Regions from separate parts of the Homo sapiens genome. Here regions 1, 2 and 4 are each reported to be linked to region 3. Evidence: microRNA targets listed by miRTarBase, many of them from high-throughput screens and not tested one by one. Region 3 holds a microRNA gene; each other region holds the end of a gene's coding sequence.

Region 1 (3,111 bases), not on the chromosome of region 3:
TATTTTGAAGGCCATCCTTTAATCCAGGCTTCACCCTAGCCCCAGGCCCCACATCCACAATTAGGGCAAAGCAAGGGCCAGTGGGGCTTTGGTGCTTGAGGAGAGTGCCCAGAACCACGAGTGGGCTACCCAGGCCCCAGATTTACTCTTCAGAGATCCCCACCATTGGCAGAAGTCCTTGTGAAGACCCACCTCCCCACCCTCCCAGAAAAACACAAAAGTCACATAAATAAGGTGCCGCATGTTCTTTTTAGTTTCCATACATCGTCTGTCCCAGAGTGAGGAGAAGTTGATCTCCTTCCCACATCCACCACAGGCTGCGTGAGGGAAGCCTGGCTCCCCACAACTTGCTCCTTCTCCAGCCCTGCCCCTCTCAATTAAAACAATGCTTTCTTTTTTCTTTTCTTTTTTTTGAGACGGAGTCTTGCTCTGTCACCCGGGCTGGAGTGCAGTGGCGCGATCTTGGCTCACTGCAAGCTCCGCCTCCTGGGTTCACACCATTCTCCAGCCTCAGCCTCCCAAGCTGCTGGGACTACAGGCGCCCACCACCACGCCAAGCTAATTTTTTGTATTTTTTTAGTAGAGACAGGGTTTCACTGTGTTAGCCAGGATGGTCTCAATCTCCCAACCTTGTGATCCACCCACCTCGGCCTCCCAAAGTGCTGGGATTACAGGCGTGAGCCACTGTGCCTGGACTAAAACAATGCTTTCTAAAGCGCATTCTGCAGCCTGATGTGCCTGTGAGGTGAGAGGTGTGGGAGGGACAGAAGCTTTGTTCAAAGAGGTTTGGGAGAGGCTGGATACTTAGCTCCCTTCTTGTAAGTTTGCCACACACATTGGCATATTAAAGGTTCTGAGAAGTCATTCAGGTCACTGATCTGTTTAGGTGTCCCCAAATAACTTGGCCACCAATCATGTCTACTCCTGGACATTAGTTCAATAAACTAGTGTATCGCAGATGTGCTTTGCAAAAAGCTTCATGAAAAAGTACACATGTGATTCCCTCCAGGGCTTTCCTCGAGGCTCCTGGGTGACCTGTCTGACCATGGCTGGAGAATCAGCACAGCACTCCCCTAGCCTCACCTCTTCCCCCATTTGGCTGTGGAAATGGAGAAACACAGTCACCTCTGAACTTCTAAACCTAGAAACAGAAGGAGACTGTACACAGGGGAATACAGAAGGCAGTCTGGGATGATGTCACTATAGAATGACTGATGAAAAATGCAGATTGACTGTTCTGACGCTGGCTTAGGGCCTGGGGCTGAAGCTGGGGACCTTGAGCAAGGCCCTTTGACTCCTGTGATCTGTTTGCCATGTTGCCAATGAGGAATAGGAACCTGCTTCAAGGATCTTATGAGGACCAGGGGAGGGAGGGGTATGGAAAGCCTTTGATGCAAATGCTCTATGCAGAACAGGAGTTATAATTATAGTCTCCATTAGACATGAAGCTTCCTGAGAAGGATCCGAAATCCACAGACTATCAGGACTGGACGGCCTGCTGAGGTTAGTTACTCTAGCCACCCCTTTTCACTGATGGGGAAGCTGAGCACCAGGTTGTAAAAGCCTGGGCCTGGGATCAGGGGCAGTGGGAGGAGGAGTTAAGGCAGGGAGCAGGAATGAAAAAGAAACTAAGTGGGTGAGGGCCAGGGAGAGGAAGATTAAGTCACAGATCTGATTTTCCAGAGCCTGAAGAGAAAAACAGAGCAAAGGATAAGACCCGGATGACAGATGAGATCTAGATTCGACTCTGGGAACTGCTCCATGCCTTGGTTTCCTCATCTGTGCAGGGATGAGGTTCCAGCTCTGATAGATGAATGGACTCACAACCACCAAGCTTGCCCCTGTGCCCAGGTGGCACCAAGACTGAAGGGCCAGGAGGGCTGAGGGGATGCACCTTGCCTGGTAAAGGAAGAGGAGCTCTGGCTACTGTCCCTTGGTGGACACGACTCTGGCCCAGGAATGATGCCTCAGCTGGGGAGGCTGCCTGGCCCTGTCAGCCCCAAGGGCCTTCAGAGACCCCCTCTCTACCACTCACCTTCCCCACTCTGATTTGCGGGGTTTGTCCACACTCCCCCCAACCCCTACTCTGGCCTTCAGACAATCCTAGAATGGGACACTGCAGTGACATAAGAGTCCTTTGACCAGTCCCCCCACCATTTTAATGCAGGGGTAAACTGAGGCTCTGAGCAGGCCAGGGTGGAGTGGAAACACCTAGAGGAAGTTGATAAGTCAGCAAGTCGGCAGCAGAGCTGACAAGCTGGGACCAGGGGCTGTCTCCTTTATGTCAAATGGCCAGCGTGACACAGACTGCCCCTGGGAAAGCCTCGGAACTTCTCGGATTGGGACAGAGTGCTGGGGCAGGGAGGAAATGTCTCCTCTTGCTTATTCCCTTGGCCAACTCAAGGGAAGACGCTTCTCGGGGCCTCCAAAACCCTGTGGGTGATTCCATGTAACTCAAGGCCCCAGGGCTCACTGGGCACACACCCAGGATCTCCATCTCGCTCCCACCCTCGTTCCTTCCTGGAAAAGAACTGAGAGGCTCCTGCTGTCTTCTCCAGAAAAACCTTGGAAGGAGCTGTGACTTCAGGCGTCGTGGTGGGCCCAGGCCCTGCACCCTATGTGGCGAGGAAAGAGACCTCAGTGGGAGTGACAGGGGCCAGAGGGAAGGCAGGCGAGGCATTGGCCCCAAGGACCCGGTACAACAGCTCCTCCTTCTCCTGCTGGAGCTGTCGCCGCAGCTGCACCTCCTTCTCCAGGGCCTCACGCGTGAGAAGCAGGTCTTCTGACAGCTGCCTGTGGATGCACACAGAGCCCAGGGTTGCCTACTGGGAGCAGCTGCCACAGAGACCAACCCATTCCCCCAGGAAGCCTTCCTTAGATGGACCAGCAGCCTGCTGCAGGGTCCCCACTGCCCTCCTTGTTGGCCTGTATACAAGAGGCAATTCAATCTGTTGACCAAGGAGCGGGGGCCTCACAGACAGGCAGGCAGTTCTGAGCTGCTTCAAATCTCTGCTCTACCACTTAGCTATATAATCTTGAATAAGTTATTCATTCTTCTTAAATTTCAGTCTTCTCATTTGTAAAATGGGAAGAAGAAGAATAGGACCCAGC
Region 2 (3,000 bases), not on the chromosome of region 3:
TCAGTAACTTTTATGTAGACAGTTTTCAAATATTTCATTGTTTCTCAGCATACTTCAACTCATTAAATCTTTCCCAGTCTTCCTCCTGGGCATGCATACATGTCAACATCAGTTCAATTTCCTGTCCAGGGTACACAATGAGCCTTGTGTTTGGGAACCTTTGACCTGGTCATAACGTACCAAGGGCAAACACCTTGTAAAAGGTGACACAAAGAAATGTCTGAAACTTAAATTCGCCAGAACACAGAATCACCAGAGTCCCAGGTTGGATGTCAAGAAAAGTGCCATTAATTTCCTCACCAAGGTGTCCTAGAGAGATCAATAAAGTTCTTAATATTAAAAGAAAAAATATTAAAATTTCTGCAATTTTCAAATGCCACTTTATCAGAAGATACTTTTTTGGGTCAGGGTCTCACTCTTGTCACCCAGGCTGGAATGCAGTGGCACAATCATAACTTACTGCAGCCTTGAACTCCTAAGCTCAAATGATCCTCCTGACTCAGCCTCTTGATGTTTTTTACATTTTTTAGAGACATGGGGTCTAGTTTATTGCCCAGGCTGGTCTCAAACTCCTGGGGACTAGAAATCCTCCCACCTGAGCCCCCCAAAGTGTTGGAATTACAGGTGTGAGCCATTGCCCAGACAGAAGATACTTTTACTACAAACTTGTGTTCATAGCTTATATATCTGATATACAAGTAAAGTGAAACAGCAATCAACAGAGTAAACACATTTTTGACCTGAGGTATCAACCCATGGACCTTCCATGGATTATCGATTTTCAAAAACGTAGAATGCATTAGAATTGCACTCAACACTAAACTATGCTGAAAAGACTATAATGTATAATGGAACATTAGGGCCTTGCAGCCATCTCAGGTAGGTTGTCATTGTGAACATCAGTCATTGTTTAATAGAACTGTGGAAATGCTGAAGTTAGTTTAATCGAATTCTGAATAATAAAGTTTACCATTATTACCTCAGGTAGTCTTGAAGTAGCTTAGAAACAAAAACCAAACCTAATAACATTTAAGGTTAGAGCAGAAAAACATTCAGTCTACCTGAATTTTTTTTTTTTTAATGACAACTTTTTGGTTAGGATTTTTGTTTTGAGAAAAATAAGATTGTTATAAAAATAAGATAGCCAATTTATTTTCCATAAAATCAATAAGTGACAGTAAATCTGTCCATCACATTAAAGACCACCAAAAATGTTATTCCTGCCATGCATTTGAAATGAGAGGGGAAAATTTTATAAACATTTTAATGTGCGAAAAAGGTATTTTCCTGCAGTAGCCCCTGAGATCTTAGTATTTTGTTTGCCAGGAAGTTAACTTTCTATCCTATTAGAATATATCTATTTTTAAAGGTTAGTAACTAATTATAATTTCCTTAATAAGGGTGAAAGTGCAAAATTTCAAGAGAGCCATTATGATAATTTGTTCAGATTTTTCACAAAGATTTTTCTAGTTGCTTCCAAACAGTCTGTGGAAAACTCACTCTTTAGGGATAAAACATTTGAGAGCAATCGAAATGTAGGATATAATCCTGAAATAATGTAGCAATCTTTTACAAAAATCTCTATATCAACAAGAAAAATAACCTTTAGGATAATAGTAAAAGAAAAGGAAAAAAAATGAACATAAGTGACTCCAAAGCTGAATTCACCTGGACTTCTTCAGAAACTCCATTTTGTCCTATGTCTTCCAGACCTGAGTTAATTAATGGAACCTGTGAAAACAATCACGTGTCTGTGTTTTTGTGAGAAGAAAACTTTTTCCTTTATCTGAAGTATTTTTCTCTTCCTCCGTTCTCCCTCTTTAACTGGTAGTAAATTCCTATGATAATGTCAATAAGTTACAATTCATAAACTCTTCATGGGTGGGTATGTCTTGTGTATTCTAGCCCACTAACAAATAAAGCAGGCTTTTTTTTAAATTTCTTTTTTCTTAAAATAACTAATTAGCTATCTAGTTTAAGAAGGAGGTGCAGAAGGAAGAACAAAGCACCCGTGGTTTCACTTCTGTTTTAAAAAAAGTTTTTTAAAGCAAAAGCCCCTGGCCCTTTCTCTTCTTCTTTTTTGAGACAGGGCCTTGCTTTGTCACCCAGGCTGGAGCACAATGGCGCAATCTGGGCTCACGGCAGCCCCAACCTCGCAGACTCAAGCAATCCTCCCACCTCAGGCTCCCGGGTGGCTGGAACTACAGGCATGTGCCACCACGCCTGGCTAATTTTTGTATTTTTTGTAGAGACAGGGTCTCGCCTTGTGGCCCAAGGTGGTCTCGAACTCCTGAGCTCAAGTGATCTGTCCGCCTTGGCCTCCCAAACTGCTAGGATTACAGGTGTGAACCACCATGCCTGGCCTCTCTTCTCAGTTTTAATATGAGAAATTACATGATTATACCTTTCTGAAATCTTGTTGAGTTTGAAATTATGACTCAACGGAGAATATGACTGATACTGTGTCTATCAGAACACTGCTAACTGTATATTGGTGAATGACTGTAAGTCTAAAAATAGCTACCAAAGAAATGAAGAGCCACCTGGCAGAGACAAAGATACTGTGACCAGAAGAAGGAGATTATTCTGAGACACACATAGCTCTTTGACTTCTTTGATCCTTAGAGAGTATTTCAAAGTTTGTAGAGATTCTGGAGGATAATCAATTTGATTTTCAAATTCAATGGCCAAAAAAATGGCATTTTTACTTGGCCTCACATCTAAATTAGTTAGAACTGCAAAAATGCTAACTTTCCTAGCAGTTCTTCCAAGAAGCAAGCATTCATTTTCCTCTTCGTGTGTCTCATATTGGTTAAAACTCAGTGTTTCTAGAGACTTCAGTCATCAGTTCTACTAAACAAGGTAACGTCATCATTGTATCCTGGGGCTGAACACTCCAAGTTCTCTAGTAAAACATAATTGTTTTCATTGACATTCAGAGAGACGGCTTCTTTCTTAGCAGTGGATGTAAGCTCACTCCAAGTAATGTCAGTATTTTTA
Region 3 (3,111 bases):
AACTTTTTAAGGACATGTGCTCTTAGTACTTAAGAGGCTGCTCAAGGACCTTCCTATCTATTTCTGTGGTCAAATTCAGACTACAGGAGGTCTTTTTGAATCATTATAGTTAGAAGAAGAATCCAGTTTCTGCCTGTGAACTTATTTGACTTTAGATTGTCTCATCTTGTGACTTTATAATGCCTGTCCCCTCCACTGGTCAATTCAGCATATGGAAGTATAAATGCAGTCTTTTTACTAGGCAGATATATATGCTATCTTACAGCTAATTATGAAATTGAATGAAAATCCATTGTTATCTTAGGGATTAGTTTTGAAAAGCCCCCGTTTATATACATTTGCCCTAACATAGGAAGTATTGTGTAGTTTCTCATTGTCATTTTATCTGTATCAAGTATCTTTTTTTAAATTGTTAAATAAAGTCAGCTAGGACTGTGGCTCAATAGTTTAAAACTATTTAAAGATAATCATATTTAAAGCAAATGTTAAAGATTTTTACTCTTAAGATTGGGCACCATGAAAAGCTATCAATAATAATAGCTAATTTATCTTTTACTAAGACTCCGACATGAATGACATTCACTAGGAAAACTCAAAATTTTCAAACTGAAGCTCACCAGACCCAGAAGATAAATCTTCCTTTGTTATTTTCTCTAACTTCTACCCTGTTATAGTTCATGAGCAAAGCTATACATGTTCCTTTCCTTTTCCCGGGGTATTATTTTAGTCTGTCCAGCTAACACCTTGTTGATATGGACTCTAGAATAGGATTGCGCTGTTATCCCTAGGGTAACTTGTTCCGTTGGTCAAGTTATTGGATCAATTAAACGTGGTAATTCGCTTTGACTGGTGAAGTCTCGGCATGTGTTGCTCGGAGGTCGGATTGTGCTCCGAGGTCGCCCCAACCGAAATTTTTCACGCAGGTTTGATAGTTTAGGGCCTGTGGACTTGTTAAGTGTTGTTTGCGTTAATGAATTAAAGCTCCATAGGGTCTTCTCGTCTTGTTATACTATGCCCGCCTCTTCACGGGCAGGTCAATTTCACTGGTTGAAAGTAAGAGACAGCTGAACCCTCGTGGAGCCATTCATACAAGTCCCTATTTAAGGAACAAGTGATTATGCTACCTTTGCACAGTTAGGGTACCGCGGCCGTTAAACGCATGTCACTGGGCAGGCGGTGCCTCTAATACTGAGAATGCTAGAGGTGATGTTTTTGGTAAACAGGCGGGGTAAGATTTGCCGAGTTCCTTTTACTTTTTTTAACCTTTCCTTGTGGGCATGCCTGTGTTGGGTTAACAGTGGGGGTAATAATGGCTTGTTGGTTGGTTATAGATATTGGGCTGTTAATTGTCAGTTTAATATTTTGGTCTGATGTAGGCTTATGCGGAGGAGAATGTTTTCATGTTACTTATACTAACATTAGCTCTTCTATAGGGTAATAGATTGGTCCAATTGGGTGCAAGGAGTTCAGTTATGTGTTTGGGATTTTTTAGATGACAGGTGTCGAGCTTGAACGCTTTCTTAATTGGTGGCTGCTTTTAGGCCTACTGTGGGTATTAAATTTTTTACTCTCTTTACAAGGTTTTTTCCTAGTGTCCAAAGAGCTGTTCCTCTTTGGACTAACAGTTAAATTTACAGGGGGATTTGGAGGGTTCTGTGGGTAAATTTAAAGTTGAACTAAGATTCTGTCTTGGACAACCAGCTATCACCAGACTCGGTAGGTTTGTCGCCTCTACCTACGAATCTTCCCACTATTTTGCTACATAGACGGGTGTGCTCTTTTAGCTGTTCTTAGGTAGCTCGTCTGGTTTCGGGGGTCTTAGCTTTGGTTCTCTTTGCAAAGTTATTTCTAGTTAATTCATTATGCAGAAGGTACAGGGATTAGTCCTTGCTGTATTATGCTTGGTTGCAATTTTTCATCTTTCCCTTGCGGTACTATATCTATTGCGCCGATTTACAATTTCTATCGCCTATACTTTATTTGGGTAAATGATTTGGTTAAAGCTGTTCGGTAGTAAGGTGGAATGGGTTTGGGGCTAGGTTTGGCTCAGAGCGGTCAAGTTGAGTTGAAATCTCCTAAGTGTAAGTTGGGTGCTTTGTGTTAAGCTACACTCTGGTTCGTCCAAGTGCACTTTCCAGTACACTTACCATGTTACGACTTATCTCCTCTATATAAATGCGTAGGGGTTTTAGTTAAGTGTCCTTTGAAGTATACTTGAGGAGGGTGACGGGCGGTGTGTACGCGCTTCAGGGCCCTGTTCAACTAAGCACTCTACTCTTAGTTTACTGCTAAATCCACCTTCGACCCTTAAATTTCATCAGGGTTATCGTAGTTTTCTGAAGTAGAAAATGTAGCCCATTTCTTGCCACCTCATGGGCTACACCTTGACCTAACGTCTTTACGTGGGTACTTGCGCTTACTTTGCGGCCTTCGTCAGGGTTTGCTGAAGGTGGCGGTATATAGGCTGAGCAAGAGGTGGTGAGGTTGATCGGGGTTTATCGATTACAGAACAGGCTCCTCTAGAGGGATATGAAGCACCGCCAGGTCCTTTGAGTTTTAAGCTGTGGCTCGTAGTGTTCTGGCGAGCAGTTTTGTTAATTTAACTGTTGAAGTTTAGGGCTAAGCATAGTGGGGTATCTAATCCCAGTTTGGGTCTTAGTTATTCTGTGTTCAGATGCATTAAAGCCACTTTCGTAGTTTATTTTGTATCAACTGGAGTTTTTTACAACTCACATGAATTTTAGCTTTATTGAGGGGAATTGATCTAAAACACTCTTTATGCCGGTTTCTATTGACTTGGGTTAATCGTGTGACCGCGGTGGCTGGCACGAAATTGACCAACCCTGGGGTTAGTATGGCTTAGTTAAACTTTGGTTTATTGCTAAAGGTTTATCACTGCTGTCTCCCGTGGAGGTGTGGCTAGGCTAAGCGTTTTGAGCTGCGTTGCTGCGTGCTTGATACCTGTTCCTTTTGATCGTGGTGATTTAGAGGGTGACTCACTGGGGCGGGGATGCTTGCATGTGTAATCCTACTAAGAGCTAATAGAAAGGCTAGGACCAAACCTATTTGTTTATGGGGTGATATGAGCCCGTCGAAACATTTTCAGTGTAT
Region 4 (3,111 bases), not on the chromosome of region 3:
TGTGAAAAGGCTTTTCGTTCTGGCTCAGACCTTACTAGACATCAGAGAATTCATACTGGGGAGAAACCCTATGAATGTAAGATATGTGGGAAGGCTTATTCTCAGAGTTCACAGCTTATTAGTCATCATAGAATTCATACTAGTGAGAAACCCTATGAATATAGGGAATGTGGAAAGAACTTTAATTATGACCCACAACTTATTCAGCATCAAAATTTGTACTGGTGATGAAACAGAATATATGAAATGTGTAGGGAGGCTTTTAATTATGGCTCAAAACAGAATTTATCTTGTTAATAATTCCTCTAGATAGAATAATGTAGAAACATTTTATTTGTGGACTACAGCTTATTCAGCCTGGGAAAAATAATGTTGGAGAAATACTCTATGAATAGAATATACTTTGGAAGCCCTTAACTAAACGCTTACTTCTCTTGACATCAGATAATTCAGTCTAGCAATATGATAGATAATTCAGTCTGTCATACTGAAAATGACAGCACTTTTAACACCTTTCTAACCTTCTTAACGTCAGAGAATTTTTGTAGAAATGTAGTCCTGTGATTGTCATTTTTTCCCCTAATTTCTCTAATTGTTACATTCTTAGTATTTTAATCCATATTAAATTTATATGGCTATAAATTTCATCTGTTTACATCCTGATTTGTATACTATTTTAAAAATACCTTTAGTACCTGGGAGAAGTGACCTCTTTATTTTTGAAGATGGCTTATTCTTTTTGTTCTTTATAACATTAAGGCTTTCTTATTGTAAAAATGTTCATGAACGACATTTTACTCAATAGAGATTCTTCATTATCTTCATGGTGTTTTGTTGTGTTACTGTAATATCACTTATGAAATCCTATTGGTGGATATCGTAGTCTCCTCTAGATATTTTGCCATAATACATGCCAAAATACAAGTCCCTGCTGGACATTCTCCCTAAGCACATCTTTGTATCATATCTTTTAATTGCAGAAGTAATGTGTGAATATATTTTCCTTATAAAAGATGCAAACATTACAAAAAGGCAAATGTACCCTTTGACCATATCCCAAAGGATAGTCTTTATCAGTTCATTATTTATTGCTGATCATTTTTCTGTTCATATATACATGCGTGTCTCAGTAAAAATTATAAAATGGGGGATAATTATAATACCTACCTCATAATGCTTTGTGAGGATTAAATGAATTAAGATCGATAAAGTGCTTAGAATTGTGCCTGACATGATAAATACATACTCACTGAATGTTAGTCATCGTTATTATATTCATCATCATCAGTATTATTATTTGTAGAAAGGCTTTTTAACTTCTGCAGAACTTAGTCACCATTAGGCAGGGTGTTTGACTGAAGAAAGACCCTTTGAAGGTAACAAGTTAAGAAAATTTCCCATCATCATGTACTTACTATTGAACATGAAATAATCCTAGGTGTTGGGGGGGAAAGTACTGTGAATAATGTGTGTGAAGGACTTTATTCCGACTAATACTCTTTTTGTCGCATTATATACCCAGTAAAAAAGAAAAGAGAACATAAGCAAAATATTGGTGCACTAATGAGGAAAAAAAGTATGAAAAGAGAAACAGCATCATATTTAAAAAATGGACAGAGATAGAAACATAGTTACAGATTTAAAAGGTTCTGTTGAATATTATGCTTTTTTCTAATATGTTTGAAAATTTAAACAAAATGGTTTTTAAGGAAAATATACATCAATATTGACTCCAAGAAAATTAGGACTCTTCAAAGACTCTCATAAACACAGAGAACAGGGAAAAATTAGCATGTGATCAGTTAACTATTACTAATGAAGCACCAAATCCAGTTTCTTTCTAAGGAAAACTTTATCAAATGTTCAAGGAACTATTTCAGTTATATAGAAGTACACATCTTGGCTCACGCCTGTAATCCCAGCACTTTGGGAGGCTGAGATGGAAGGATCATTTGAGGCCAGGAGCTTGAGACCAGCCTGGCCAACATGTTGAAACCCCATTTTTACTCAAAAATACAAAACTTAGCCAGGCATGGTGGCACATGCCTGTAATCCCAGCTACTGGGGAGGCTGAGGCAGGAGAATCACTTGAATGCAGGAGGTGGAGGTTGCAGTGAGCCAAGATCACGCCATGGCACTTCAGCCTGAGCGACAGAATGAGACTATTAAAAAAAAAAAAAAAAAGTCCACAGTGTAGCTTTGTTTGGGGTTAAGTTAGTGTTTTGAAATGGGCCTTCCCTGTGCTCAAAACATGCTCAGCAAGCAGCTCCCCACGCTGGACAGATCGCATATGTGGAAGGATGAAGTTTATGTCTGTAGAACTGTTATTTTATGCCCCACTTCCTTTTTTCTTAGATCCTGTGTAGACGGGTCTCTCTGAACATTGTGTTACTTTACTTTACTGGCATAAGGAAGTAAAATATTTCATAATAAATTTGAGAAAAGTAGAGTGAGCAAAAATACCTGCAAATGAGAGAATTACTAAAAATGGACTGTTGTAATGTTTTGCGTTATCAAAATGAAAACTGCCAAATGAGATTTTGTTTACTTTCTTTTCTTGTGTGCTTATGTCTTTTATAAAGTTCTTCATCTAAAATTATAGAGATAGTGCATTTGCACCCAAATTAATGAAACAATACCATTAAAGAGAAAGAAAAGGGGCTGGGCACAGTGGCTTACGCCTGTAATCCCAGTGCTTTGGGAGGCCAAGGCAGGGGGCAGCCTGGCCAATATAGTGAAACCCCATCTCTACTAAAAATACAAAAATTAGCTGGGCGTGGTGGCATGTGCCTGTAGTCCCAGCTGCTCGGAAGGCTGAGGCAGGAGAATCGCTTGAACCCGGGAGGCGGAGGTTGCAGTGAGCTGAGATCCTGACTGCACTCCAGCCTGCATGACAGAGTCTCAAAAAATCTGTCTCAAAAAAAAAAAAAAAAAAGAAAGAAAAAATGATTATCTTTGCCCTTCTCCGTTCCTCATTCCCTCCCCTCTGTCAATTTTCTTCTGAATAATATTTAAAGGTTGTGTATATTACCCATATATTTCTTCATGCTAAAACATTAACACACAATTATTTTATTATGTTTTTACAGAAAAATGGATAACTATACATTT

The links. The annotated mature microRNA hsa-miR-4485-5p reads ACCGCCUGCCCAGUGA and lies in region 3 at 1,163-1,178, opposite strand. An mRNA with a match to its seed (bases 2 to 7 or 8) in the 3' UTR can be bound and repressed. Matches are read on the target gene's strand: a 7mer-m8 pairs with bases 2 to 8, a 7mer-A1 pairs with bases 2 to 7 and ends in A, and an 8mer does both.
Region 1: the mRNA of CCDC69 is a reported target of hsa-miR-4485-5p. Seed matches in the 3' UTR shown: 7mer-A1 at 479-485.
Region 2: the mRNA of NIPAL1 is a reported target of hsa-miR-4485-5p. Seed matches in the 3' UTR shown: 7mer-A1 at 2,309-2,315.
Region 4: miRTarBase lists ZNF566 as a target of hsa-miR-4485-5p. Seed matches in the 3' UTR shown: 7mer-A1 at 2,844-2,850.

Annotation. Positions count from the first base shown.
Region 1 is chr5:151,180,822-151,183,932 of GRCh38, forward strand. CCDC69 (coiled-coil domain containing 69) reads right to left here. Exons shown (of 9, transcript NM_015621.3): 9 at 231-2,793. The coding sequence ends at 2,616. Among named protein-coding and RNA genes, the nearest start is that of ANXA6, 25 kb to the left of the region's middle.
Region 2 is chr4:48,036,010-48,039,009 of GRCh38, reverse strand. NIPAL1 (NIPA like domain containing 1) reads right to left here. Exons shown (of 6, transcript NM_207330.3): 6 at 1-3,000. The coding sequence ends at 2,838. Among named protein-coding and RNA genes, the nearest start is that of NIPAL1, 21 kb to the right of the region's middle. RefSeq lists enhancers at 1,998-2,057, 2,078-2,337.
Region 3 is chr11:10,507,143-10,510,253 of GRCh38, forward strand. MIR4485 (microRNA 4485) reads right to left here and starts at 1,184; the gene lies at 1,128-1,184. It overlaps AMPD3 (adenosine monophosphate deaminase 3), which reads left to right. Exons shown (of 15, transcript NM_001025389.2): 15 at 1-437. It also overlaps the pseudogene MTRNR2L8. RefSeq lists a silencer at 1,980-2,274.
Region 4 is chr19:36,446,094-36,449,204 of GRCh38, reverse strand. ZNF566 (zinc finger protein 566) reads left to right here. Exons shown (of 5, transcript NM_001145344.1): 5 at 1-3,111. The coding sequence ends at 228. Among named protein-coding and RNA genes, the nearest start is that of ZFP82, 29 kb to the right of the region's middle. RefSeq lists an enhancer at 1-154.